Regions from separate parts of the Homo sapiens genome. Here regions 1, 3 and 4 are each linked to region 2. Evidence: fine-mapped expression QTL. A gene starts in region 2. Each other region holds a variant in brackets. All regions are shown on one strand. Distances are between the middles of the regions.

The links.
Region 1: its variant is fine-mapped to the expression of IL7R in fibroblasts (GTEx, PIP 0.92).
Region 3: its variant is fine-mapped to the expression of IL7R in testis (GTEx, PIP 0.95).
Region 4: its variant is fine-mapped to the expression of IL7R in fibroblasts (GTEx, PIP 0.98).

Annotation. Positions count from the first base shown.
Region 1 is chr5:35,916,471-35,924,110 of GRCh38, reverse strand. CAPSL (calcyphosine like) reads left to right here. Exons shown (of 5, transcript NM_001042625.2): 2 at 2,991-3,127. The coding sequence starts at 2,991. Among named protein-coding and RNA genes, the nearest start is that of CAPSL, 18 kb to the left of the region's middle. The variant A/G (reference allele first, on the strand shown) is at 3,955.
Region 2 is chr5:35,851,999-35,858,925 of GRCh38, reverse strand. It overlaps IL7R (interleukin 7 receptor), which reads right to left and starts at 2,035. Exons shown (of 8, transcript NM_002185.5): 1 at 1,867-2,035. The coding sequence starts at 1,948.
Region 3 is chr5:35,718,529-35,726,168 of GRCh38, reverse strand. The region is part of intron 20 of SPEF2 (sperm flagellar 2); the gene reads right to left. Among named protein-coding and RNA genes, the nearest start is that of SPEF2, 100 kb to the right of the region's middle. The variant T/A (reference allele first, on the strand shown) is at 3,411.
Region 4 is chr5:35,897,036-35,904,675 of GRCh38, reverse strand. It overlaps CAPSL (calcyphosine like), which reads left to right. Exons shown (of 5, transcript NM_001042625.2): 5 at 30-388. The coding sequence ends at 131. Among named protein-coding and RNA genes, the nearest start is that of CAPSL, 38 kb to the left of the region's middle. RefSeq lists an enhancer at 1-81. The variant G/AG (reference allele first, on the strand shown) is at 3,712.

The sequences.
Region 1 (7,640 bases), 65 kb before region 2:
AGTAACTAGCTCATAGGCTTGTTTTTCTTTTTTAACCTTTGCTAATTTACCAGGATGACTACGTGCCCAGCACACTTTAAATTTTTTTTTTAAATTGACAGATAAAGTTGTATGTATTTACTTTGTATAACATGATGTTTTGAAGTATGTATAATTGTGGAATGACTAAATCTAGCTAGTAACATCTGTGCATGGGTTTTATTTTATTGAGATGAATACACATAACATAAATTAGCAATTTTAAAGTGTATATTACATTCACAATGTTGATAAACCACCGTCTATGTCAAGTTCCAAAACATTTTTATTACCCCTGAAGGAAACTTTACATTCATTAAGCAGTCACTCCCCACTGGCCCTCCCACCCCAGCCCCTTGCAACCATTAATTTGCTTTCTGTCTCTATGAATTTGCCTATTCTGAATATTTCACATAAATGAAATCGTACAATGTGTGACATTTTGTGTCTGGCTTCTTGTACTTAGCATAACATGGCCAAGGTTTGTCCACATTGTGGTATCTATCAGTACTGTGTTCCTTTTTATGGCTGAAGAATGTTTCACTGTATGGCTATACCACAATTTGCTTATCCCTTTATCCATAGGTGGACATTTGGTTTGTTTCTACCTTTTGGCTGTTGTGAATAATGCTGCTATAAACATGGGTATATGTGCATTTGTTTGAGTTCCTGTTTTCAGTTCAACTCAAGGGGTTTTTGTGGGAACTGGACACATGCTTACTACCTAGTGGGGGCACCACTGATGCCTTTAATATTATTCTGAAGGTGTGCAAAGAGGGTCCCACTGGGGATCTGTCCCAGATCCAGGAGCTGGATCTCACTTTCTCTCCATGACTGGTTTTTAGTCTCTGTTTCTCTTCATTCTCACTTACTGTCATGGATGGCAGGGAAAAACCAGAGCAAAATGAATAAGGTGGACAAGGTAGGGGAGATGTCATGGGAAATGAGAATGGGAGGTGAGTGGCTGGGGACAGCCATTGGGCAAGTATCATGAAGCAAGGTCAAGGGTCAGGAAAGATGATGGTGGTCCTGGGAAGGATCAAGACTCTGAGGTGGGTTTAGAGAATGAGAAGGGCATGTTGTTGACACCAGTTCCTGCTTCCATAGGGGTTGGGGTGGGGATGGGGCGCATGCCACTAGCAGAATATGGTCAGGGCAAGAGAATGGCTCAGGCAAGGATGAGTAAGACAGCAGGACATGGCTAGATGAGTGAATTGGTGGTCTTGTCTGTGACTCAGGATTCTGGCTGTTAATAAGGGGACAGTTAGTGCTGAAGCTGGGAACGAGCTCTGGGAATTGTCAGCTTGAGGTCAGGTAACAAAATAGTAATAAGCAAACGCCAGTTATTAGAAAGCTAAAGCTGCCAGGAAGGGCACAGTCTTGGCTGCAGGTGTCCCTGTTGGATGAGAATTGGAACATGCTCCTTGTGTGTGCCTGGCAAGAACGGAGATGGAAGTCTCTAAGCGCAGGGTGTGCCACCGTCTGGAGTTCCAGGGAACCTCTGCTTAGGTGCCAGTGGAAGCAGAGGAAGACTGTGTAGCTTTAGACAGAGCAAGTTTTTCCTAATGTGGAGTAAAGAGCTGGGACGTAGACAGGTCTCCTTCTTGACCCGAGGTTCAAGAGAACTGAAAGGAATTGCTCCCACCTTCATCCACATACTGGGAATCTGAATACAGGGCAAGAAAGAGGGATCCTGTACCTTGGCTCGGTGGAGGCTGCAAGAAAGTGGCCACGTTAAGTGTATGCATCCCTGAATTGTCTATTCTGGCCTCAGTTATTGGCTTGATGAGATTCCCTTTCCCAAAAGTCAAATAAGGAGTACCCTCTATGGGAGACCTTTCAGGGTGTATAGGAGAACAACACTCTTGGCATAGACGAGGTTGTGAATCTGCAGGTTGCTGTCTTTGATGAAAATAATTCAGTCCTAATGTAGCACTTAGGGGAAGTGCCAGAATTTGACTGGGGAGGGAGCCTCGAAGCCAGGGTGGAACCACATTCTAATACCGTTTTTTTTTTTTTTTCTGCACATTGCATGCTGTCCTTTGCACATCCTTCGAGCCTCTTGCCTCTCATTCTTTTCATTCACGACTCACAGGTAACTTCCAGAATCCCCCATTTACTGAATATGTGGACTTATGAGAATTAGTGTTTTTTGAAGCTGGGATGGAATTTAAAGACCATCTTATCCAATCCTCCCAGTTAAAAGAGGAGGAAACAGGCTGTGAGATTCACTCACAGGCAGGTTACCAGGCAGATGGGGGTGAGGGGTTGGGGGAGTTGAGGGGTGGGGATTGAAGAGTCAGGACTATAACCCAGGTCTCCAGGCCCCCAGCTAAGTGCTCTTCCCACTGTTGTGCAAGCTTTGAGAGCTCAAGTGTGGCTACAAGAGTTTGTACGTCCCTTGGGGACCACTCAGGAGACAGCACTTCACTGCACCCATCCTAAGAACCTCATTAGGTGTTAGTGGATACTAACCTGTGAATCAAGGAGACCATACCCATTACTGGTAAGAATCATTAAGGATCAAGTGCTGAAAATCTCATTCAAGACAGAAGCAACAAAATCAATGTTTAGACCAAAGAGGAGAACATTAAATGTGAGGGTCAAGGGAATATGGAAAATTCTACATAAAATAATATGGTATATAATGTTGGTTCAAAAAAGAGAGTATAGAGAAATTGCACTTCTTTTATGGATGGAAGAGGGCTTCAGAAAGATCAAAACATCTTGGGAAATGGTGATATATTTAAGATTATTGTCTAGGCTGGAGAAACCAGATGTCCTCAGGACTAGATAAGTAAGTTATAAATATGCCAGGCACACAGTTGGCATAGAGAAAAATTGGAAATTCTGAGAGGTTTCCTGACAGAGAAGGCTGTAAATTTCCTTCTCAGTGAGGCTTCTGTCACTCTGCCCAGCCAGAGGCAGCGGCGAGGCCTGGACTTTGCTAACATGCTATGGCTTCCCCTCAGATGGCAGGGACAGCGCGCCATGACCGAGAGATGGCGATCCAGGCCAAGAAAAAGCTCACCACGGCCACCGACCCCATTGAAAGACTCCGACTGCAGTGCCTGGCCAGGGGCTCTGCTGGGATCAAAGGACTTGGCAGGTAGGACCCAGCTACAAGTGGCAGGGAATGGAGCGGGAAGGAATGACTCTGCCAGGTGAGGCTAATGTTGGCCACGTGGTCTTGGGGAAGTCATCTCCTCCTAGGGGCTCAGTTCCTTATTTGTAAAATGTAGAGTTTAGAAGAGTTGATCTATGAGGTCCCTTGTGACAGTTTTTGGATCTTAGTCCCAGATTCGGCAAGACTCATATCTGCTACAAGACAGTGCAGCTCTGGGAAAATATGAGGTAAAGGGAGAAGCAGCATGTGCCCTGGCATGGAGATGCCTACCAGGACAATGAGAGGGACTCTCTCTGCAGCTGTGATAATAAAGGCCAGGGTGGAAGAGGGAGGAAGGAACAGCCAGTTAGCCCTAATTGCAGAATTTGGAATTTTGCTCTCGGGCAATCATTTCTCCATCACTTCCAGGGACACTGGTATTGCTTGTCAGATAACTGATAGCTCACTGCCAATGGGGTTCTCTCAGCTGGGTAGCTCCTGTTCTCCCACCCTCTGTCCTCTGAGTGTGAATAGTTTTAAGGACTGAGAAACCAAAAGGGAAAGGAGATTGTGAGCCTCCTGAGGGCAGGTCCTGTGCATTATAAGAAACTCCATCAAGAGCCTGCCATGGGCCAGGCATTGGACACATCTCAGGGACCCGTGGGTGAACAAGGCTTCTTAAGCCCCCATGGAGGACTAAGACTATGGACAATATGAGTGATCTAAATGGCATCTCAGTGGTGTGAGAAGTTGTTTATTAGAGAAGTACAGGGTGCCAATGGGAGGGAAATCTAGCCTTGGACCCAGAAGATGCGGAAGGCTTCACTTCC[A/G]GCAAGGTACTGAGTGCCTGGGAGAAAACTCTGAACAGTCCCAAGTCTCAGACTAAGCCCAGCTCTGTCAGAAGGCCAGGCAGTGGGGATATGGACCCTGGTGGCCAGGCTGCCCCAGTCCAATGGGAAGACCAGCACCCATGCCCTCAATATTGTGTCACTTCCACCTCTATCCCATTCATCATGGGTCCACATCATTGTCCTTAGTGCAAACCCTTGAGGAATCCTCTCTTCCACTCTCTGGTTCACTCAGTGGAATCCCTCCTGCTACCTGTGCCATCTTCACCCCATACCCACTGCACACTGCGTCTCTACCAGCCTTTCCACTGGGAACCAGTCTACAGTCAATGGACACCGTTCCATCCTAAGCCTTTTGCAGAATGTGCCATCTGCCTCACTTACTGGCCTTGGCCTTCTCTAAGTAACTCCTAACTCAAGTGGAAGCTGCCCCTCTCCTCCACTCCTACCTTAGGGTCAGTTGAAGACTGAACACTCTCCTTCAGTCTAACTCCAAATCCCAGGTCATACACACCCCTTTGTTCATTTATTTCTTTCCCATAAATCCTGTCTTAGAAGGGCATCTCTTCAGGTTAGGCTCTGCCATCATCCCCCCTGCACAACATTTAGCATTCTGTGAAGCATTGACTCCCGGCACCATCTTTCCACCCTGAGTCTTTATCCTGACCAAGATCAAGATGACTTTGTTATTTATAACCTTGGCACCTTCATTTTTTGACATGAAATTCTTGTGGTTTTCAACAGTATACGTTCTTTCTTAGTCATTTCCAATTGCCTTGTAAATGTAGATACTTCTCTAGTATCTAAATTCTCAAGATTCTTTTGCTAGTATCCTTAATTTATCAGACAACTTGGCTACTCCTGAGTTAGCACATCTGTACCTTGGCCCCTTGCCACGTTCTTGGAATGCTATCCGTTCCTGAGATCCAAACTAATTTCACAATTTTTATATATATATATATATATATTTTTTTTTTTAATCAGGAAAGATACTAGCTAACCAGTGAATATCTCTATATAGTTGACTTAGTATCCAATCCAAACAAAACAAAAGTCATTTTTTTTGTTTTTTGTTTTCCAAATAGAGCTTCTTCTGCAGCCCCTACGGTTTTAACAGTATTACTACTCTTCCAGGTCTTTGGGTTGAAAACTTTAGAATTATCTTCATTAGCCCACCATATTGACTCCTTTATTTCTATAATATCTTGAAATCTTTATTTTTCTTATTTTCATCCCAATTGCTCAAGTGTAGACACTCAACATTTTTTTCACTGGACTCTTATGATAGTATTCTTGCTGGTTCCTTTGCTCCTAAGTTTTCAGTCCTCCAATTCATTCAACCCATTATTGCTAGAGTTCTGTTAGCTCTCTTATGGGTAAAGTTCTCATTATTTTGATAATGTCACTTCAAGTCAACCATTTAATGACTTTAAAAATGACTTGCTAATAAAGTTCAAATTTTTAGCATTTAAGGACATTTAAAAGTCTTTAGATTCTGATTACTCCAACTTTCCATCTTTTAAAAAAATTATTCTTTAAGTGCTGGGATACATGGGCAGAACGTGCAGGTTTGTTACATAGGTATACATGTGCCATGGTGGTTTGCTGCACCCATCATCCTGTCATCTACATTAGGTATTTCTCCTAATGTTATCCCTCCCCTAGCCCTCCACCCCCTGAAGTTCATGTTCCACTGTGTGATGTTCCCCTCCTTGTGTCCACGTAATCTCATTGTTGAACTCCCACTTACGAGTGAGATCATGCGATGTTTAGTTTTCTGTTCCTGTGTTACTTTGCTAAGAATTATGGTTTCCAGCTTCACCCATATCCCTGCAAAGGACATGAACTCATCCTTTTTTTATGGCAGCCTGATATTCCATGGTGTATGTGTGCCACATTTTCTTTATCCAGTCTATCATTGATGGACATTTGAGTTGGTTCCAAGTTTTTGTTGTTGTGAATAGAGCTGCAATAAACATATGTGTGCAAGTGTCTTTACAGTAGAAAGATCTATAATCCTTTAGGTATATATCCGGTAATGGGATTGTGGGGTCAAATGGTATTTGTGGTTCTCCATCCTTGAGGAAATGCCACTCTGTCTTTCACAATGGTTGAACTAATTCACACTTCTACCAACAGGGTAAAAGCATTCCTATTTCTCCACATCCTCTCCAGCATCTGCTGTTTCCTGACTTTTTAATGATCACCATTCTAACTGACATGATTTGCATTTCTCTAATGACGATAAGCTTTTTTTTAAAATTTTATTATTATTATACTTTAAGTTTTAGGATACACGTGCACAACGCGCAGGTTTGTTACATATGTATACATGTGCCATGTTGGTGTGCTGCACCCATTAACTGGTCATTTAGCATTAGGTATATCTTCTAATGCTATCACTTCCCCCTCCCTTCACCCCACAACAGGCACCGGTGTGTGATGTTCCCCTTCCTGTGTCCATGTGTTCTCATTGTTCAATTCCCACCTATGAGTGCGAACATGCGGTGTTTGGTTTTTTGTCCTTGCAATAGTTTGCTGAGAATGATGGTTTCCAGCTTCATCCATGTCCCTACAAAGGACATGAACTCATCATTTTTTATGGCTGCATAGTATTCCATGGTGTATATGTGCCACATTTTCTTAATCCAGTCTATCATTGTTGGACATTTGGGTTGGTTCCAAGTCTTTGCTATTGTGAATAGTGCCACAATAAACATACGTGTGTATGTGTCTTTAGAGCAGCATGATTTATAATCCTTTGGGTATATAACCAGTAATGGGATGGCTGGGTCAAGTGATATTTCTAGTTCTAGATCCCTGAGGAATTGCCACACTGACTTCCACAATGGTTGAACTAGTTTACAGTCCCACCAACAGTGTAAAAGTGTTCCTATTTCTCCACATTCTCTCCAGCACCTGTTGTTTCCTGACTTTTTAATGATCGTCATTCTAACTGGTGTGAGATGGTATGTCATTGTGGTTTTGATTTGCATTTCTCTGATGGCCAGTGATGATGAGCATTTTTTCATATGTCTTTTGGCTGCATAAATGTCTTCTTTTGAGAAGTGCCTGTTCATATCCTTTGCCCACTTTTTGATGGGGTTGTGTGTTTTTTTCTTGTAAATTTGTTTGAGTTCATTGTAGATTCTGGATATTAGCCCTTTGTCAGATGAGTAGGTTGCAAAAATTTTCTCCCCTTCTGTAGGTTGCCTCTTCACTCTGATGGTAGTTACTTTGGCTGTGCAGAAGCTCTTTAGTTTAATTAGATGCCATTTGTCCATTTTGGCTTTTGTCGCCATTGCTTTTGGTGTTTTAGACATGAAGTCCTTGCCCATGCCTATGTCCTGAATGGTATTGCCTAGGTTTTCTTCTACGGTTTTTATGGTTTTAGGTCTAACATGTAAGTCTTTAATCCATCTTGAATTAATTTTTGTGTAAGGTGTAAGGAAGGGATCCAGTTTCAGCTTTCTACATATGGCTAAGCCAGTTTTCCCAGCACCATTTATTAAATAGGCAATCCTTTCCCCATTACTTGTTTTTGTCAGGTTTGTCAAAGATCAGATAGTTGTAGATATGTGGCATTATTTCTGAGGGCTCTGTTCTGTTCCATTGGTCTATATCTCTGTTTTGGTACCAGTACCATGCTGTTTTGGTTACTGTAGCCT
Region 2 (6,927 bases):
TTAGAGCTGGACAGATGTGCGTTTAAATTCTGGATACTCTACCTGTGGTCCTCTGTCAGGTAGGCAACTTCTCTAAGACATGTGTTCTAATATGTAAACTCGTGCTATGAGCAATCACTGAATGGATATTTACAAAGAGGTAGCTTAGAACACAGTAAGGATTTAATAGGGATTAGCTATGAGTATAATATTTTCTGAGAAATAAGTAATGAAAAGGTAAAATAAGAATTCTAATTCTGAAAATATACATGAAACATTTGAGCTTCTCTTTAAAAAGTTTATGTCAATTGACGGTGTTATAATTACTATGGTTTTGAAATTACATAGAGCTTTTGAATAATGAGTTAATCTATTATTCTTTAAATGCTCAATAATTAATATTATTCATATTTAAATAGGTATCTAGACATATTTATCCATAAAAATTTAAATTGTGTGGAATATGTATCATAGGCAAGCCAGTGTCATCTAGAAGTCTTCTTCCTACTGAATGGAGTTAGTTGATTAATAGTGTAAATGATTTGGATTTTTAAAAAGTATCCCTTTCTTCTCTTGATCATCCTTGTGATGATCAGAAAATTGACAACTTTCAACAAGCAGCAACTGAATGTGAATTCCTATACCCCAAACTGGGAAGTATTTTGACGTAATCATGTGAATAGGGTAATTATACATCTTCTAAAAAATCTGAAACTTAAAAAGTTGGAGTGAAAACCCAGCTTTCAACTAGCATTCTTATATATTTTAAAAATAGTATGATCACCAGGGTGAACTAGTGAGTATAGATGACATGAAAGAGAGTAAGATTTATGTTTCCTGCCTCCCATCAGTCTTTGTGGAAATCCAAGGCAAAGTTTAGCATAGAATAATAATCATCCCCCATAAAGTGAGTCATATACTGTAAAAAATGTCAAACTCTCTGACAATTCCCTTAATGAGAAAATTCTAGGGATTTCCATCCTTCGTAATTACATGACTCAAAATGCATAAGCTGAGTCATTAGGCTGATGTGTTTGATATTGTCTATAGCCAAATAGTTTTTAACTCTTAAAGAGAAAGGGCTTAATTTGCAGGAGCAAGTTGATGGTCTAAATTCCCACATGCCTCCTGCTGCTGTTAGAAGCTTCTGCCTAGTTTTGTTATAATTACAATGTGTTTATGTATGGGCAGGGTTGGCTTCTCGGTACTAAGTTTTTTAGATCCCAAAAAGAATTATTACATATGGCCAATTTGTTGGTGTGGAGGCAATTCAGTGTATTTCAATGAGTAAACTCATTTAGATCTTTCTCTAGTCAGTTATTTACTTAAAATCTCACATAAATCTCTCAAAACTAAAGTATTTTGAAAACACTTTCAAAAGTTATTGGATGTCTACTATATTCTAGCCACTGATTTAGGTGCTGAGGATATAGCACTGGTCACTGAAGACAAAGCTATTGCTTCTGTACATTACCTTATCCTGAAAGTTATGCTTTCAGGATTTCTTAAAAAGTCAAACAAAATGAATCCAGTTTGATCTCCTGACAAGGTAAAATTACTTTGGACATTTTCCTACAAGTACAGTCATAGCATCTACATGAGCATTCTTTTTGTAAGAGCAGAGTAATCATTCAACATTTAAGATCTACACTTGGGAGTGAAATGCATTCCTTCTTGAGAATACTGAGGTCTTATAAACCACCCATAGTATTGATCCCCTGCCCCCTGTCATGGTGGTTAAACATTAAAAAAAATGACTGAATATGTGGGAAATTCTCAAACTGCATTCAAACCCAGTGCCTGACTCAGGTCTGTTAGGGAACTGAATAACCTGAAACCATGCTACAGATAATCCAAAATCCATAAGAAAACTTAGAAATGACTCACCATTTTGAGCATAGCCACTTTCTCCAGAAACGACTTGAAGTAAAGAAAAAACCATGCCAAAAGTTGTACCTAGAATTGTCATTCTGAGAGAGATAGAGAGAGAGAGTAGATGTGTGAGCCAGTGTGTATGAAATGAATGAGAGTAAGAGGAAGGGAGGGAGGGAGGAAGACAGAGAAGCTTAGATCTAGGGCTTTATACTTATCTAACCACAGACAAGGGAAGTATAAACACAGCAAAAAAGAAGGCAAGTTCCAGAAACAGGAAGTCTGAGTAAAAGTATTGCTGCTGTAAGCAGAGGTCAAGGACATGAAGAGACAGAGCCTCTGAAATTATTGTTCCTCCTGGATATTCCCTGCAGCCCCCACACTTACTGTGCTTACATCAGAGTAAGGCAGTAGATTCACACCTAGGCTCAAGCTATCTTAGGCTAGAGGCTACTTTATTTTTTTAATTTTTATTTTTTTGAGACAGAGTCTTGCTTTGTTGCCCAGGCTGGAGTACAATAGCATGATCTCGGCTCACTGCAATTTCCACCTCCCAGGTTCAAGCAATTCTCCTGCCTCAGCCTCCTGAGTAGCTAGGACTACAGGCAAATGCCACTATGCCAGCCTAATTTTTGTGTTTTCAGTGGAGACGGGGTTTCGCCATGTTGGCCAGGCTTGTCTCGAACTCCTGACCTCAAGTGATCTGCCTGCCTCAGCCTCCCAAAGTGCTAGGACTACAGGCATGAGCCACCGCTCCTGACTAAGGGCCCACTTTAAAAGAATCTGAAGACAAAAATTCAAACTTACAAAGTGAATCAATTGGTTGTTTGGAGTGAGTTTTGATTTAAAGAAACAGTCTGCACTATGTGAAGTACTTTATTGTGGGTTTATTTTAAATAGCTTACCTCCAACTTCCAAGTTTCACAAGAATAGCAGTTTTTCTCTTTTGTTCTCTGTGTATCCCTGGTATTTACTCATATCTTACACACCACAGTAGGCATTCAAGAATTATTTGTTTAGGGCAGGGGCTGGCAAACTATGACCTAGGGAACAATTTTTTAAAAAATTATTCATTTATTTTTTCTTTTTCAAAAGATCTTTTTTTTTCCCAAGTAAGCCTTGGGACCAAATTTAATCTACCACCTGTTTTTGCAAATAACGTTTCATTGGAATACAGCCTCACCCATTTGTGTATCATCTACAGCTGCTTTTATGCAACAATGGCAGAGCTAAGTAGATGAGATAGAGATTGTATTGTACAAAAGGTGTAAAATCTTTACTATCTGACCCTTTGTAGAAAAAGTCTGCTGACCTCTTGTTTAAAGGATAAAGTAGGTACTTTCTTAGTGTATTTAAAACAGGATTCTATTTGTGAAAATTTGATTGCCACACAACTTTTCAGGTACACATAGTACATATGAACTAAATTAGTGCCTAGGTATATGGGGCAGAAATCTGAGACCATGGCATAGAAAATTCAGACTCCCCCAAACCTGAATGCCAGTCAAAAGCCTTCCTAATATGGCCTCATGGTTAAAGTGGTGATATTTGTAAAGCCTGACTGCTTCTTGGTAACTGTTAGATTTTTTTTTCTTTTTCTTGAAAAAAATAATCTAACCTGGATTCAGGCCATAAAACTCTATGCTTGATTCACAGTGGCTCTCTTTTGGAAAAATGCCACAAGACTGCAGTTATAAGGTGAGGAGTGCAGAGAAACTAAGTGATCAGTGAGTTATGAACTTCTGTTGGATTCACTGTCATTAGGTAGAATTGCTCCCATGGGCCTGTGAAATGGCTAAAATTAGCAGAGACAAGCAACAACCCCCCAGGTGTAAAGCAAATCGAAGAGACTTTAAAAGACTCATGATTTAGCTTGTCCCATCATTACAATTATTTGACAATAACGAAGTAACAAAAAAAGGAGGTGGGACATTTGTACCAGTCTCTGGATCCTCCTTTTCAGTTTTAAGACAGACTCCGTCTGCACCAGTTATAATGCCACACTTTGGAGTATAGGCTCAAGGAATACTTCGGAGCAAGAATCCAACTGAAGGGGACATATTCCATCTTCTCCATTTGTCAGGGCCTTCTCTGGGCATTTCAAAACCCTTCCAAGCCAAATAAAGAGTGACAATTTTGTGCATCGATAATAATTTATGCCCTCATTTCTAATCTTGTTTTGAAAGCTTGGTTAGAAAATTGTAAGCCTGATTCACAAAAATTGGTATGTTTTGTACACTGAGCTAAATACCCTTTCAAGAAAGCTATAATTACAGATTCCCATGAATTAAGCTAATGTTCAAGGAGAAATCCCAAATTATATCTATCTACCAATGCAAATCTCCTAAACTGCTAACAGATTGTCACTTCATGGGTGAGTAACTGGGTTATGTCTCTTTAAATTCTCTTGTTTATCATTTAAGTGGACTATCATTTTGATTGTATCTCTTTCCTTTAGTTGTGAAGATGTAAAAGAACAAAGCCAAGACACAATATTTTGGTACAGCATGTGCTGGTTTGTTCTGGGGATTTCCACAGGGGTGCTTACTCTTGGGTGGGGCAGGAGATGCTGAAAAGACCTCAGAGAGAAGCCTAAAGTGTGGGGAGCTCAAAGAAAAATGACATGCGTCACCAGTCCTTCTAGAGATTGTGGGGGAACAACAGTGCCTTCTCTCTTTCCTCACTCAGGTCTTGTTAGTCCTTTGGAGACTTAGAAAAGCTGAGGAAGAACCACCTAGTTCACCCTATCCCCCAGGTAACAAACATTTACTATATTACTTTGTCATTACTTTTGTGAGACAAGCACAGAAAGAAGAAAAGAGGATGAGGAACACTATTTGGGGACACTCAAGTCTCCAAATGTGAAATCAGGAGGGAAGCATTGGACTGTGGTAGAAGCAAGCAGTTTGGCGTGGCAACTGACTTGGCCATATTTCTTCTCCTCCTCTTCACCCATCACTTCCTTTCATGGCTACATTTTCTCGTCTCTCTTTTGTACTTTGTCTTCCTTCAGTTTGATGAGTTTGTATGATGTAGTGAATCATTAAAAAGGAAAGCCAGCTGGGTGCAGTGGCTCATGCCTGTAATCCCAACACCTTGGGAAGCTGAGGTGGGCAGATCACTTGAGCTCAGGAGTTCAAGACCAGCCCTAGTAAACATAGTGAGACTCTGTCTCTGCAGAAAATAGAAAACTTAGTCAGGTGTGGTGGGGCCCGCCTGTAGTCTTGGCTACTCAGGGCTGCAGTGAACCGAGATTGCGCAGTGAACTGAGATTGCACCACTCCACTGTAGCCTGGGTGACAGAGTGACAGTCTGCCTCAAAAAAAAAAAAAAAAAAAAAAAAAGCCATTTGATTCTTTCTCATACACAAGCAGAACACACTGACCTTGTTAAGACTCCTGACACCAGTTGGCCAAGTCTCCTTTTCTTCCTTTTTTGTAATTGTTCAGGCTATTTGCCCAACAGGCAAAACACAAAAAAGACTTTCTTTTATCTTCAGATTGCAATAAGTTCTGTGGTGTTCCTATATAACCGGTAGAGTCCTAGCAAGTTAAGAGAACTTATCTTTTAACGAGATTGAGATCCTAAAATGTTAGAGGGGTGTATCCATTATTTGGTTGTTTGTTGTTTGTTAACTGGATAAAAATCTAGCCCAGATCTTCCTTTTTTTTTTTTTTTTCTGATTAGTAAAGACAAAGGTTTTCCTGGGAAAATTCAGGCTGAGCATCTTGTCTTATTACTAGTGTTTACTATCTGGATCCATCTATTAGGAACAGAAATTTTGACTCTATTCTCTACAGAAATTATGAATTTAGTTGGACAGATACCAGTGTATCATGAGAACCCTGGGAAACAAACTGTTTCAAGGACAAAAGCATTCCTCTGACTCAGTTTTTAGATGAAGCTTATAAAATAGTCCTTAAGCCTTTAGCAATTTGTCCTAAATGAGGATGATTTAAAAGTCACTCACCTTGGGACTATATATTGAAGGACAATAAGTGAAACAGCAATAATAACAGGCAGTAAATGTTGCAACAGTAATATCCTGGGTAAAATCTGATGTTTGAAAAATACTGAAAACACATTCTATGTGTCATAAAATCTGTATGACCTGCCCCCACCTACTGTCAACTTACCTTTCTTAACAGGTTTTATCCTTAAGGTGGAAAACAATCTTGGGCACCAGCTATCTTATTAAAAAAAAAAAGCCAGCCCTGCTCAAGAGAGAGGCTGGGGACCACAAGAGCTGTGGAAAAAAAAAACAACAAACAAACAAACAAACAAACAAAAAAACCCAACATCCAAGGGTGTCAAGCAGGTGAGGATGGCTGTAGGAAAGCTAATGCCACTCTGGTCCTAAATGAATAGTCTCTAGCATTTGATAAACATGTGCTGAGTCAGTCCCTACGATTCTGAGGGGGAGTCCCAGCATCTTGAAGTTTCATTTCCAGGAGCATGACATTTTCCTTGTTGTGGCTCTTCTTTCATTTCCCTTTCCTCCTTCCCCCACGTCTTCAGCCTCATGTCTTGCTGCCATTTGTCTTCTTTCTGGGCAGAGTTTGAAATGTCATACTATTTTCACCTTTATGAGATTTTAGCCTCTGTCTCTGGATGCAATAAAAATGGAAACTTTGAGTACCAACATTTCACTCTTTGCTGACGACATTTCTGCCAGAAAGTGAGTGGTATTTCAATTTCAGTACATGCCCACATTTTGATAAAACAGTGAACAAGAGGGCTGACCCTGGGAAGAGTGGTGAGAGTGGTATGCCTTCTGGCAAAGGCTGAGTCACAGTGCCCCTTTGGGCAGCGGGAGCCAGTGTGGTGTCCCTGCAGCTCAGTGTCTCCCTCTCTGGCCTTCCCAGCGGACAAACAGTTCACAGCAGCTCCGGCTGCCCACTCCACTGTCGGACACAGTGCCCCAGTGTGTTTCTGAGAAAAGTCTGGATCAAGCAACCCCATTCTGGGTTCTGGCCCGTGCCCCTGCACACAGTACTTGCCTCAGGGTAAGCTCCATTCCTGCAGAGTGGTTCCTGAGGGACCACAGTTGGTGGCCACACCCTGCAGGTCGTTTCC
Region 3 (7,640 bases), 130 kb after region 2:
TGTAACTTTTAACAATGAAAATACTGAAGGGCAAAATATTTGAATGAATAAAAATGTATCTATGCGTTAGTGAATATTCACTTTTGAACAAAATCTTTATCAACATCTTAAATGTAACAAGCTGCATTACTTTTTAAGTACCATCCATGCAACCATATGAAGGCTTCATTTTCTAATAAGATGTTTGCTTTCACTTGTAGAGTTGGATCATTGAGTCCTCAGTGTAACTATTCCTCATGCTCATGGATGAAAAGTTTGGAAAATAATCTATGGATTAGCATATGGTGAAGGTACATATTACCAATTTTTTTTGTTGTAAGAACCTGATAGTATCACACAGAAACCCATGGCACTGCAATGAGTATAAATAAAAATAAAATGCAGTAAAAAGAGAAATTCAGTTTTAGAACACTGGATTTTAAAAATCAATGTATAAATAAAGAAATAATCAAAGACAAAGTGACACAGCAGTAGATTTGAGCAAAGAGATAATAATAGGAACTCAGTGAAGGTCTGAGTAATTAAAAGTCAAGAGCTGGAACCAAAATTTACAACTAAGAAAGTAAACAGTTAATTCTAAGATAAGAGGATCAATTGATGAGAGGACATTAGGAAAACCAGACACTTTCAAATTAAATTGGCCTTCCTCAGGGAGGTGAAAGGATTGGGAGGTTAGAATTGTAGGAGGGAGGAAAAGATAGGGAAAGTCTGCTTTATGTGTTTGTTGTTGTTGTTGTTGTTGTTTTCTTTTAAGAAAGGCATTATTTTTACCTTTCTGTTGCAAAATATATCCTCTAGGACTTAAATTAATTAACAGCTTCACTAGATAGAAACCAGATCAGTTAACAGTGATAGCTTTCTTATTGCCTTGGGGGTCAACCATGTTCAGCAAAGAACAACTTTTTGTTAACAGTGCTAATGGCTGCCTGGGCTGCCAACAATGGCAATCAAAGTGGAGATTTAGAGTGTCTTAAATAAGATGAAAATTTTAGCTCAGAAATGGACCAGACTGAAGCAACATGACCAGGAAGAGAAGAGGTCCGGTGTTAGGCAAGGAGCCAGAGACTGAACATGTGTTCTCAGAACTCACGGTTGAAAAACTATTCTGAAAAAGCTCATGGAGGGAAAGCTTTCTCTGCTTACTGTCCTAAAATTTATGCTGTTACTCTGCGTAGAGCTGGAGATACAGAATGTGGACAACTACAAAGTAATGAGACTGGTTATCTGGGGTTGCTTATAAAACCTAATTTTAGCACCTTTATAATCAATAACAAGAGGGAACTCTCCAGGTCAGCTTTGCAAAGGATTCCCCTTTCTGCCCTCTGTCTTTAGTAACTTGGTCTGGGGCCAATAATAATACTCCATATTTATTTACAGTTTATTCTGAGCCAGACCCTGTACTATTTACTTTTTTGCACATGTACTTATTCTTTATAATAGCCACATGAGTAGATACTCCTATTACTCCATTTCACAGATGAGGAAATTGAGGCATATTAAGGTACAGTAACTTGCCAGAGGTAACCCATATATGGTAAATGGCAGAGCTAGAATTTCAGTCTAGGCGGGCTGGCTGTAGACTCCATGCTTTTGATTGTCATACTTCATTGCCTTTTAGTGTCTATTGATGTAGTTCATATTGATAAATGTTCTTTTGATTCATACTTAGAAGTTTGCAAACTCAGAGAAGTTCTTATACTACTATTTACTTGGCTCATTGATTTTAAGATTATTTTTATTTATATTGCATACCAATTTTCTTTTTGGAAAATTTCTGGTAAAATTTTTTAAACTTCAGTCTGATAAACAGATTCATTAAGAGACTCGTACTTAAGAGCAGAAATATTATTTATTTAATTTATTTAAACAATTGTAACATTATTGAGGCAAAAGTCAGGGAAGTTATGAGCAATTTAGTGTGCAAATTAATGTGGGAGGGTAGATAATATTCTCCAAAGAGTGAAGAGGCTTTTTGTTTTCTTCTCATAGGTTAACAGTTCTTAACAAAACACTTCTTTATTCATTTTGACTCTCAATTTCCTCATCTTTGACATGGTAAAATGATAATTTCTACTTCATAGATGATTGTGAGAACTTAATGAGATTATATATGTAAATCATCTTGTGTAGTGCCTGGTACATAAAAGGTACTTTATAAGAGGTAGTTTGTTATTATGCTTATAAATTGTATTATAAAAGAAGACTATGGTTGAATTTCGCTACCAGAACCGTGATCAATCATAAATTAATTGCCAGCTTTTGTATGTGTGGCATCAACCTTCCAATGAAACCCAATGTATTTTGCATTTGCTATAAATCTATGACGACCTTGCATATTGTGCCACATACTGTCCTCTGTTAAAGGTCTCAGGTGATAAAAATCTATTTTAGAAATTAATCCTGTTAAAATTTAAACCCATCATACTTCCTCCATCACCTTGTCAGGTTGTTCTGATTAAGGAGTCATCACAATAAGCATTGTGTCTTTGAGCTGAATGTGCTAATTTCCTCATTTCAGGGCTTTGGATTTTTATTTCTATTTCAACAGCATTATTATAAACATGTTTTTTATTGTAATTTAACTTAAATATTTGGAGGAAGAGGTATATTATAAATAATACACCAGAAATCATTGAATGTTTCTGATTTTCCAGTGGCTACAATAGAGCAGTCAGCCTTGGGCTCCAGTAAAGTAGTTCTCAAATGTTAGTGATCATCAGGATCCTCTAGTGGGCTCGTTAAAACACAAAACTGCTGGTCCCCACTCCTGGAATTTCAGATTTAGTAGGTCTCGGGTGGGGCTGAGTATCTATATTTCTAACAAGTTTCCAGGTGATGCAGATGCAGATGCTGCTGGTCCCAAAACCATACTTGAAGAGCCTCTGCTCTCATAGATGATCTAGTTATTTCAATTTCCTTTCACTTTTGTCTTTTTTCCTCTGTTCTTCCAGATCCTTCAAATTAAATGGCATTAATGAGACAGCCAGGTGGGAGGGGGTCCCTGGACCAGCCTGCTCACTGGGGTGAAGCCTTGGGAAGTTCATGCCATTTGTGTGGGGAGGAGCCTGGCCCCTCTTTTTCCTGTGTGGAACCTGGGATTCAAACTGCCTGGCCTTGCAAGAGTTCCTGTTTCCCTCTTTTTTCCGTTTTAACCCAATAAAACCCTGCTTTACTCACCCTTTAAACCATCTGTGAGCCTAAATTTTGATGGCTGTGGGCAGACAAGAACCCCATTTTAGCTGAACTAAGGAAAAGTCTTGCAACATTTTTGGCACCCAACATGGGACTTGAGAAGCAGTGAGTGAAATGGGGACTCAAAACCATGGAATACTATGCAGCCATAAAAAATGATGAGTTCATGTCCTTTGTAGGGACATGGATGAAATTGGAAATCATCATTCTCAGTAAAC[T/A]ATCGCAAGAACAAAAAACCAAACACCGCATATTCTCACTCATAGGTGGGAATTGAACAATGAGATCACGTGGACACAGGAAGGGGAACGTCACACTCTGGGGACTGTTGTGGGGTGGGGGGAGGGGGGAGGGATAGCATTGGGAGATATACCTAATGCTAGACGACGAGTTTAGTGGGTGCAGCGCACCAGCATGGCACATGTATACATATGTAACTAACCTGCATAATGTGCACATGTACCCTAAAACTTAAAGTATAATAATAAAAGAAAAAAAACCTTGAAAAAAAAAACAAAAAAAAACCTCTCACTGTTGCTTCTAAGACTTTTCATCCTTGGACTTCTGAGGGTGGGGGAAACCAAGTCCCCAACCCCCATGAATCCCATGTCTTTTCATGGCCTTTTCGTTTTTTCTACTGGATAGATGGGTGAGCATCAGCTCCCCGATGCTCCCTGCCCCATGCCAGGGCTGGGACGCATGGTCCCAGGGTCCTGACCAGCTGGATGGCTGGTTCCCAGCCACAAGCCACCACAGCCTTCCCCTTCCCCAGCCAAAGGGTTTTACTCCATTGGACAGTAATTGAACACATCTCCCTGGTGGAGGAACAACTTGCATAAGAGTAAGAGGTTCTTTCCCAGACATTTTTAAACTGTTTTTTTTTTTCTTTCCTCTTCTCCACCCTGTCAGCAGTTAACCTTTAAAGTTTTTACCCCCCTTTACTAGGCCAGGCCCTCAACTAATACTGTTCATATTTTCTGTAAAGCTTTAATTCTGAAAAAGGATTTGTGGGGCTAGTCTTGGGCTGTGGCCAATCTTGTGTGCTTTTCATGTCCGTATGGTTTGTGCTGCAAGCCTCCATCTTGCTTTACATCCTAGGGGCATAACCACTTGGCAAGGCTTTGTTTAGCAATACTGTGTTAGGGGATGAGCCCTCTCTGGTTCAATGTCTGCATGTTTTCCTAACTCTGTCTCTTAAAGGACCCCACCCAGCAACTGGATTTTCTTCTGCCTGTCTATGTATGTACTGTGTGTGATGTCTGTGAAAAGATCTCTAACTAATTCGGCCTAAAGAAAGACAAGCACTTGGATCAAATACTTTTTTTAAGGCAAGTTAAAAGCTGTGGTACCTTTCACTTCACGTGACTTTAATCTTTAAGAAGTAAAAACAGCCCTAAAGACTATTGGTAAAATCCAGGTCAGATGCAAGGTTTGCTAAGTGTTTTAAGGTTACAGACTGCTTTTTGGGTTTTGAGAACTATTTGACATGCGGCTTCACAATTGGTAAGGTCTGGGCACATATGGAACTAACCACACCCTTAATTAAGAAGGCAAACCTTGGCTACACTTAGCCCACAATTAAAGCAACTCACCAAGCTTTACCTTAAAGTTAAAATTGATAGGAGTTAACTGAAACTACTAGAAATAGATTTACATGCAAGATGTGTAAGAACAGTAAAATGTGTGTTTTAGTAAACAGTTATAAGAAGGCATGGAAATGTAAACCTTTGCCTAGGGTTATAGGATTGTATTGAGTGAAATTAGGAAAAAGCTGAAGGTTCAAAGAAGTGGTAGAATAATTGTGGAAATTAATCTTGCAGAAAAGGTTCTCTGTGTGAACATATTAACTAAATTCCAAAAAGGGTATTATATGGTTTTCCTGTAAATTGAACACTGAAATAAAAGCATAACAAGGTTTTCCTAAGGCACTAATCTGCTCTTTGGCAAAATTTGTAAAGGGATATAAAAGGTTTTTGCTTCTTTAAAATTTCTGAGTCATCATTTTGGCAAAATAAATAGTTTATGGTAATCTGGAATTCTATTCAATAATATCAAGTGCTTTAAACATATTTAAAAGGCTTCCCAAAATCAAACTTCAGTATCAAAATTATCTTCACTGGCACCTGGCTTTTTGAATACTTCAGAGGGCCCCTGAAGTGTCCAGAAAAGAGAGGTAAACAGGATTGTTTGACAGGTTTAGGTACGTGGGATTGCCAAAATGATGCTCAATCTTCTTTAGGTTATATCTTGATGAATAATGCTAATATATGTTCCAAAACTGTATAAAATTTCTAAAATTCTAATGTCTAAGTATATGCTATCAATCATAATTAAGGTTGTTATGTTAAGTTATTGAAAACCGTGGAGAAAACCAAACTTCTTTGTCAATCATGTTTCTAACTGTAACTACCCTGGACATTTTGCTATCCACAGACAATTGTTGTCTTGTTTTAATCCTTTTCAAAGATAGTTTATAATGAGCTATAGAATTTTAACAGATGCTCTCAAACACAGGTTTCTGATAACTTTGGAGATTGTGACACTGGAATAAAAAAACATACAGGACTCATGAATAGCTGAAATGTTCATAAATATCAAGTGAAGCAAGAACTAAATGGACTGAACTCAGAAAGCTGAAGCAAACTTTTTGACTTTGCTTGGAATATTGCTGATCCTTATTTTGTTTTTCAGAGTCAAGGAAACTTATTTTGACTATTTATGGCCTTTAATAATTAAGGAGTAAGCAAGGTATACTCCTATGATCAAAATTTGGAGCATGTTTGTTTCTCTCTGCCTGGTTCCTCCAGAATTTAGAACCTATCTATGAGTATTCTTATGGAAATATAGTTGTTTGCATTAGTGCAATAAAAATCCATTTTTCTTTTGCAACAGGACACAATTGGAGAAAGTGGTTATTTTACCTAGGCTTTGACTGGAAGGGTATGCTTCCCTTTAAGGAGTAAATCTCTACTTGCAGAGCCAATAAAAGGCTCATACCTTCGTCTACGCAGTCCTTGTACAGGGTTCCTGACCTGTGGTCAGTAAAGAATGTCACTCTCTGGCTGGGTGCAGTGGCTCACACTTGTAATCCCAGCACTTTGGGAAGCCGAGATGGGTGGACCATGAGGTCAGTGGTTCCAGACCAGCCTGGCCAACACAGTGAAACCCTGTCTCTATTAAAAATACAAAAATTAGCTGGGTGTGGTGGCATGTGCTTATAATCCCAGCTACTCGGGAGGCTGAGGCAGGAGAATCGCTTGAGCCTGGGAGGTGGAGCTTGCAGTGAGCCAAGATCACGCTACTGCACCCCAACCTAGGTGACAGAGCTAGACTCCATCTCAAAAAAAAAAAGTCACTAATGCCACTTTCTAACAGGTTCAGGAGCTCCAACTTTATCTTGGGACCATAAGAGAAGAGGGCCACCCACCTCACAGGTATTTGAGGATACAAACCCATGGTTGGGCTTGGCTTTAAAAGGTCTTATCTGAGATTCCTTGTGGAACAGACTTCCATCAAAACCAATCCAAAAGGCCTACACAGAAATAATTATTCTTGCTGCACTTTATGCAAATAATCAGGCCAAGTATAAGACTAAAATCTATTTTGCAAACCATTCAGTCCTGTGATGATTTTTTAACAAAAATGAAGATGGGAGAGAGAGAAATCATGTTTCAAAACTTACACATTTGTCGTTAAATTCTCAAGTCATTAGTTGTTTTTAAGTTTTCCCCTATATTTTAGACTAACCCTGCTTGCTTCTGTGAACCAACCAGCAATTTCTGGCTCCAGGTCAAAAAGAACAAAAGGGATGAGTAATGTAAAAATCTGGATCGATATTCTAGTTCTAAGCAATTATCCTGCAAATCCTCTGAGGTGATGGGAATAAATAGGATGCCCATGACTCGGAGGTTTCCTTTTTGGGAAAGTAAGACCAAGGCAGCTAACCAAAGCCAAGCATCATGCACCCAAATCTTAGTAAGCATAACTATAGCTACCAGTTATCTGGGTGTGTCACAAGACATTCTTTCCTCTCCTCTCACCTTAAAATTCAGCTTATGATAAGGAGTCCATGTAACTCCCTGAGACACATTTTTGTCCCAAACTCAATTCCAAGCTTTGGGTCAAAGCCCTAGGCAGGAAAATTGGATCTAGGGGATTCAGGGGCAAATGACAACAGAGGTTAAAAGGCACAGCAAAACTGAGAGTGGCTGATTCCTGCCGATTAAGCCAACCCCAAGCTTCCTGTTTCATGGATAAAGGTCACGTTAGTGTCCATGACATAAATGATATCTAGGAAACTCCAAGGCTACTGACAGCAGGGGAGATAAGGCATACATGGGTAAGAGGAGATAATTCCTATTCTCTAGGCCCTCCCTGCTTCATGGGTGCAAGGTGCTTTGGCACTCATGGTGGGACCTGCCAAAATCGCTCAGATGCAAGTATGGAAGAGG
Region 4 (7,640 bases), 45 kb before region 2:
CGTTTTTGTTTCTAACTTTTCCACTGCAGGTGACCCCTGAGGAGTTCATGAACTACTATGCAGGTGTGAGCGCATCCATTGACACTGATGTGTACTTCATCATCATGATGAGAACCGCCTGGAAGCTTTAAGCACATGACCTGGGGACCAGGCCCTGGGACAGCCATGTGGCTCCAAATGACTAAATGTCAGCTCAAAAACCAGAATCGTATTTGATTTCACACTCATCCTAATGTTTTTTTCTGTGTCAAAATATTGCATTTTCTGGGGCCAAAAAACAGGCAGAAATAAAAGACATTGAGTAGCCAACTGTGAGTTTGCCTTGCCTAAGACTGTTTCCTTTGTTCTAAAATAGGACTTAAATAAAATGAGCTCTGTAAAGCTCCTAGTGCTGTGCTGATACATGCAGGTGTCTAATCAACTTTAGGTTTTATCCCTTGGCCATTAATGAAAGCTTGAGTATTTTAATTAAAACCCTCACCCATGCACCCATAGTTTTTCTTCACCTCCTTTTAGATGATCCTTTTCTAGGTGAGATGATAATATATCTCTTTTTATGACTGATTGTAAGTCTTTAAGTGTTTCAGTCTCATTTGGGGACCAGAAGAAGACCACGTGTTAGCCTCAATTTCTACAAGCAAATCTTGAGTTTCACTGCTTAGGGTTTAGGGAAGCCGCAGTTTGACAAATAGATTCAAAATGATTTATTTAATAGTCATTTTAAAGACTGGTGTGAGTGAGGAGGCTATTTCTTTGAGCAGTAGATCCACGCCTGTTCATGGTACTCCTGTGGCTGAAGTTTTGAAACTGGGCTGGGCGCTCAGATTTTATCTGGGACATCTTGCGCTGTGTGTGGGCAGGCTATTCCAGAAAGCCTTCACCTGGTGGAATGTTTATCTCTCCCCTCTCTGCTTTCTGCCAATTGTGTTGAAATTCCCACCAGCAAGGGCTGGGTGCAGTGGCTCACGCCTGCAATCCCAGTACTTTGGGAGGCTGAGGTGGGTGGATCACCTGAGGTCAGGAGTTCAAGGCCAGCCTGTCCAACATGGTGAAAACCCTGTCTCTACTAAAAATAAAAAAATTAGCTGGGCATGGTGGCACATGCCTGTAATCTCAGCTACTCCAGAGGCTGAGACATGAGAATTGCTTGAACCCGGGAGGCAGAGGCTGCAATGAGCTCAGATCATGCCACTGCACTGCACTCCAGCCTAGAGCAAGACTCTGTCTCAAACAAACAAACAAACAAACAAAAATTCCCACCAGCACAAGGAGGTTGGGTGTGACACGGACTAGGATTTCAATAATATTCCAAAGCAGGTTTTCCATCTTGATGCTTCATGGCTTAACACCTCCTCCTCCCAGCACTAAGCTTTGGCTTCATATCGTTGATGTGTAGGACTCTGCCCATGAAAGGCTACTAGAAGCAAAGATAGCCCAGAGGCTGGAAAATAGATAAGAAAACTACAGCTCTCCTTCTGTGTCTTCTGTATCTAGGGCCAGAGATAAAAGCACAGTGACCAGCCTCTGGTTATGGTGCTGGAGACAATGCCCACCCACCTTGCTGCTGGGTGAAATACCTCCTTTTGACTCTGTCCTTAGCTGCACTCATCCCCCAGTTTGCAGACAGGATTGGGTTAATAGTCTTCTTTAAGATCTTATATACTTAATTGGCTCTGGATTTAGGGATTGAACACACTTGCCATATTTTGTATCAATTCACTGTTTAGGTTTTATTTCATACGCTTGGAAGTTGAGATTCGGATATGTATTAATTTAAAACATGTGAAAACCAGTGCTGCTACATAGGCATTATAGTAGTTATTAAGTAACTTGTTGAGATGCTCAACTTTTTCTTGAGGATGGTGTATCCCCGTATTACCAGAAACTAGTTTTGTTTTTGTTTTTGTTTTTTTACTTAATTGCACAATTGCACAAGTTTGATTTTGTATTGGATTTATTATCTCTGCTCATATAGAGGTTGGTTAGGCCAAAGATACCAAGTGTTATGAAGAAATATGTAGACTTATGTAGAAAACCAGAAGAAATTGTGAAGAAATGTATAGAAAAAAATCCATATATTTTTGCAGCCTGTGCCTTGTAGACTGTGGCTAAGGAGAGGTCCCCTATTTCCTGGGGATGATGGGTTTCAAGGCTTTTGCTCTAGAAAGATTCTTGTCTTTGATTCTGGGTATGACTCATGCCTCAGCTTAACTGAGGCTATAGAGTGAGCATGTGATTCTGAGCAAGGACCAGGTTGCAGCTATCAGCTTAGTCTTCTCCAGTGATACTTTGCTTCCTGTCAAATGGGGGCACAGGGCACAGCTATCCAATTTCAGATAACCCATACTTCATAGTGTATTTGGTCACATTTAGTTGCTTCTCTTCTAGCGGTTTGGGTTCTGGGCCCATGAGCAAGGTTCCACCAAGGCCCTTTCACCCTCTGGAAACAAAATCTGCTAATAACCTAATGGTCAAGGGTCACTGCACTCCAATTCTCATTCTCCTTTATGGCTTCTGGCACAGTCACGAATTATGCATTATTTAGCTCTACTCCTTCTAGTAGGAGTGGGAGGAAAAGAGAAGAGACATTTAAAGAAATCATTTGCTAACACTCTTCTGGATATATTTTTTGTTTATTTAACTTACAGATTTTAAAGCTTACTCCGTTTACAATTTAAAAAATAAGCCCTTAGTTCAGAAGGCAAAACACAATAAAAAGTTGCCAAAACATCCCTCAGGAAAACCTCACCTGTTGGGTCTGGTCCTCAGATAGAAAATTAAACAAGCCAAAGAAAAGAGAATGAAATTAGCAACTTTTTATGAAACAAGAATGATGTATGCAAACATTCTGAGAATGAGAGTTTGTCAGAACAAACCACCCATAACAATACTGAATTTGGATTTCTAACTTGATCAAAGGCAAACCCATGCAAGAATGGCCAGAGACTCTGACTCTCTGCTGCTGTGCACATCATACTTGGATTCTATTCACAGTGCAAATGAGAAACCCAGAATGTGGAAGCTATGCAAACTAAACTGTAGACTGAGGCAGAATTCTTTCTGCTGGTCTGTGGGGCTGGTTTTCACAGTGATTTAAACTGTGATAGGATCTTCCCAGGCACAGATGGCACTTTGGAGGACCATGTACTTGTTCTGTATGGTTTGACAGCAGGCATGGAGTCACATTTCATACCGTAATCAAGCTTTTCAAAGGCAGAGCTGGGTGTTCTCCAAGTAGCTGCAGATTGACTTGGCATACATCATGGCTTGCAGGTGTAAATACATCCCATCAATAAATATTTATTGAGATACATGCTTTTTTTCTAGGCCATGGGGACAGAGCAGTGAACTAGAATAATTGCAAGCAAAACCATTGGCTTTCAAACCAAACTAACAACCCACAGTTGTTAAGAGATCAAAGAGGGTAGAGAGGGAGGGAAAGAACAGGCACCCAAATTCCCCTCCCAGAATCTCATTCAGCCTCTGAAGTCAGGACAGTTGGAGCCCTTTCTGTGGCACTGTGTCGGGGAGTGACGTAGTCAATTTCATGGACATAGACAGCCTATCAAGACAATGCAAGGAAAATCCCTCTCTGTATTTGGAGGCAGATAATTGTGTTGGCTCTTTAATTTTCTTGGCCAAAGTTGATTGTCTCACTGAGCCATGAGAGTACAAGTAGGTAACACTTCCATTCTCACTAAACTACCTGCA[G/AG]ATGCAGTCTATGTTGAAGTTTAATCAAGTGGAGAGATAGAATTTACCAGATGTATTCACAGATGGTGTGTGGGGGCCCTTCTACCTCTGCTTCATGAAATTCTATTAACCTTCTCTGAGTAGTATACCTTTTTTGGATTTATGCATATCTGTTTTGTTATTGTTTTTATTTATTATGTTTTTGATATGGAGTCTCGCTGTGTCACCCAGGCTGGAGTGCAGTGGTGCCATCTCGGCTCACTGCAATCTCCATCTCCCAGGTTCAAATGATTCTCCTGTCTCAGCCTCCGAGTAACTGGGATTACAGTCACCTGTCACTATACCCAGCTAATTTTTTGTATTTTTAGGAGAGATGGGGTTTTACCACGTTGGCCAGGCTAGTCTCGAATCCCTCACCTCAGGTGATTTGCCCACCTCGGCCTCCCACAGTGCTGGGATTATAGGCTTGAGCCACCACTCCCGACCATGCATATCTATTTTGAGTACAGAAATGAAGAACCTCATATTTTCCAATTCCCAAACTGGTCAACAGACTTGCTTTCCTGGAGATTATTGATTGTTCTTTTAAATTAAGATCCTATTGAATGAAGCGGTAAAGTTTTAAATCCTAGAAATGCTTATGACTCAAAGGAAAAACAAAAGCATCAGAAGTCTGACAGATTGTCATTTAATGTTATTGAGTTTCGTGTAACTGATCCTTTTGAAAGCCAATGTTTCTCAGCATGATTTTACTCCTCCAAGTCACTTAAATGAAAACTATGTAACTTTGATAGAGATAGCTAGTTCTTTTATTCCGAAAAAATAAAACCCACCTAGTTAACCCCTAAAATTATATGTTCTAAAACAGGTGATGGGTGAGATATGTTGAAAGAAACATAAACAAATGATTGATGGGGGTTCTGAGAACATCGCTGTGTGAGAAGAATTCTTTTTGCCATTTCAGCTGGTGTGGTGACAGGCTGTGGTGAAACAGCTCTTCCTCTCTGAGAACAGCATGACCTTCTTGTTTAATTCTCACACCTGCCTCGCCAAAGCCATATCTTTTCCCCTGAGCAAAGTATAGTGGAAGAACCTCCTCAGGAGTGAAGCCCACTGAAAATATAAGCAACCAACCAGTAGACAAGGTTTTAATATGGACCTTGCAATGACCAGAAAGGTAGAGTTCATCAGGGAAAAAAATCTCAACACGTAATGGCCTTTTTTTTTCTTTTGTATTAGATTTTCTTTTGATTCTTCCTAATGGAATTTATTTATTGTTTCTCTGGGGTATTTCAAAAATCCTAGCAGCCATTGAACATTGTTGATGCCATGTGAGTTTCACCGAAGTCCCTGTGAGCACCATGGGCTTCCAGCTCCATCTCCCAGCACTAGAAGTGTGATACTTAGCTCAAACACTCCAAGGATCACATCCAGCTTTACATTATGCCACCATATAACAGTCACTCATTTCCAATTTCATTCTGCTCCAGACCCTGTAATAAATGTACCAGGGACCTTGTGACTCAGAGCTCAAGCACTTTAAATTTGAAGCAAGAACTGAGTATATAGTAGTTTATTATCCTGTGCTCAAAGACTTGGATCACTTTTTCTTTTCTGACCTGAATACTTGGCATTCAGAGCCTGCTATTGACTTGGGAACATCTTGATCTTAAACTTGAAAGGTTTGAGTTGCTGAACTCCTGGAAATGCTTAGGCGACATGTGGAACTGATGACAATCCGCAACCCGAGAGAGCCTTAGAACAGGATGAGGACCCGGAATTGAGAGAAAATGACAAATGGCGGAGTGACTTGCTCCTTCCAGAGTTATAGTGAGTCTCAGAGTGCTTCCTGTTGATGGGATAAAGTGCTACACAATCGCAGGTTATTATCAAATGTTAGCCATTACCTTACTAAACCCAGCTCACTCCTTTTGTTTCCAAGGGAACTGGGAAATAAAGCCCCTTCCACAAATGTCATACTTAGTCATGCTTAAAATCTCATTTAGCAATATTACTCAAAATCCATTTACTTAAGATTATTATTGAAGTGGCTAAGTGTGTATAGCAAATCACCACGAATTCAGGCTCTACTAATTGAGATCATTTAGACAGGGTTTGAGTGGAAGTTTACTTGTATTTTATCTGTACCAGAAAAAAGAGAGGATGGAGGTTGTTAAGGAAGTCAGCAATGCAAAGATTATAAGGGCTGTGCCTACATAGGCCAAGTACCTGTAAAACATATACACATTCATATAAATATATTTGCAATATATTCATATATATCTTACAGGTACTTGGAGCTATTTGTGTATAAATATAATTAGTATGCTAGTCATAAAATGTTTTCGCATACCTTTTAAAATAGTCCTAGGTTAATTGTTAATTGGCAATGATTTATTGGACAACTATAGCTCAAGCTGTTTTCTAGATAGTGAAGTGTTTCTATTATGTAAATCCTATCTTGATAATATTTTAAAATAGAAATTGAATATACATTGAAGCTGAAAACAACATTCTGCGTTATAAGGAAACATTTTCATGATATTCATGACATAAATTTTTAAATATTTTATTTGAAAAGCTATAGGTGTTTCTAGTGGTAAGCTATACATGCACTGAAAGCAAGAACTTGGCTTAATAGCAAGAGCTGGAATATCATTTCTAGGGACGAAATATTGAAAGGTTCTTGAGTTACAAAGTTAGATATTATTTAATTTATAATACCAGCTTTGTCATTTTTTAAAATTATCAGACAGCACTTTGCCATTAACTTGGTTCTAATTTAATTTAAGGTTTGAAGCATTAGCAACTATTGTAACAAAAGAGGACATCTGGCTGTGTGCAGTGGCTCATGCCTGCAATCCCACCACTTTGGGAGGCTGAGGTGGGTGGATCACTTGAGGTCAGGAGTTCAAGACCAGCCTGACAAACATGGTGAAACTCCGTCTCTACTAAAAATACAAAATTAGCTGGAAGTGTTGGTGCACACGTGTAATCCCAGCTACTTGGGAGGCTGAGAGGCAGGAGAATCGCTTGAACCCAGGAGGCGCAGATTGCAGTGAGCCGAGATTGCGCCATTGCACTTCAGCCTAGGCAAGAAGAGCGAAACTCCGTCTCAAAACAAAACAAAACAAAACAAAAACCAAAAACAAAATAAAACAAAACAAAAACACATCTAGCTATTTCAGTTTTAAAGTGTTTCCAAAAGATATTTATTCTTGTTAGCAAGCATGTAACATATCATGCTTCTTTAAAAGTATACTTCCTTGACGGTGCTTTTGGATCATTTAAAAATGTTATTTGTGTGGTATTTCAGTTACAGGTGATAACGTTTCTTCTTTGAAAATTATGAGGCCCTGTTCACATTGTACTCGCTCATGTTCTTAAAAGAGCAAAACATAATTACTCATAAAACTATTATTTTGACAGCCAAGAATGAAAGTTCCAACATTTGATGTTAATATTACTTTCTTGCAGGGATGAACTACTTCCATCTAGCAGGCCAAGCAAGTTTCCAGAATGCCCAGCTTTTGAGTGGTGCTTCTAGATCTGTGGGGAATAGTATGACTGTATATGCTGGTATTAAGGAATTGGGGAGGTTAAGAGGGAGGAGAGAGAGATGGAATTTAGAGGCTGATTCCTACTCTTTGCATCTTTGGTCTTAACTTCATTGCCTAGTATAGGAAGCACAAGTCCAACCTTAAAATATTAACACGTATCCTGGCCAAATTGAGAAGTGGGTAGAGTTGGCCTTCTAGTACCTCCTATAGGGCTGGTACCTCTCCACTCTGCCACTGAATGTCAGGCATCATGTATTTCTGGGTGCCCAAGGATTCTGGGAAGTACCCATTCTCTAGTTCTATTCCTACCTGTGTGTTTGGTGTAGACTCCCTTTCACTAAAGCACTTTTTATCTGTTCATTTATGCTATAAATTTCTACACCCTAAAAT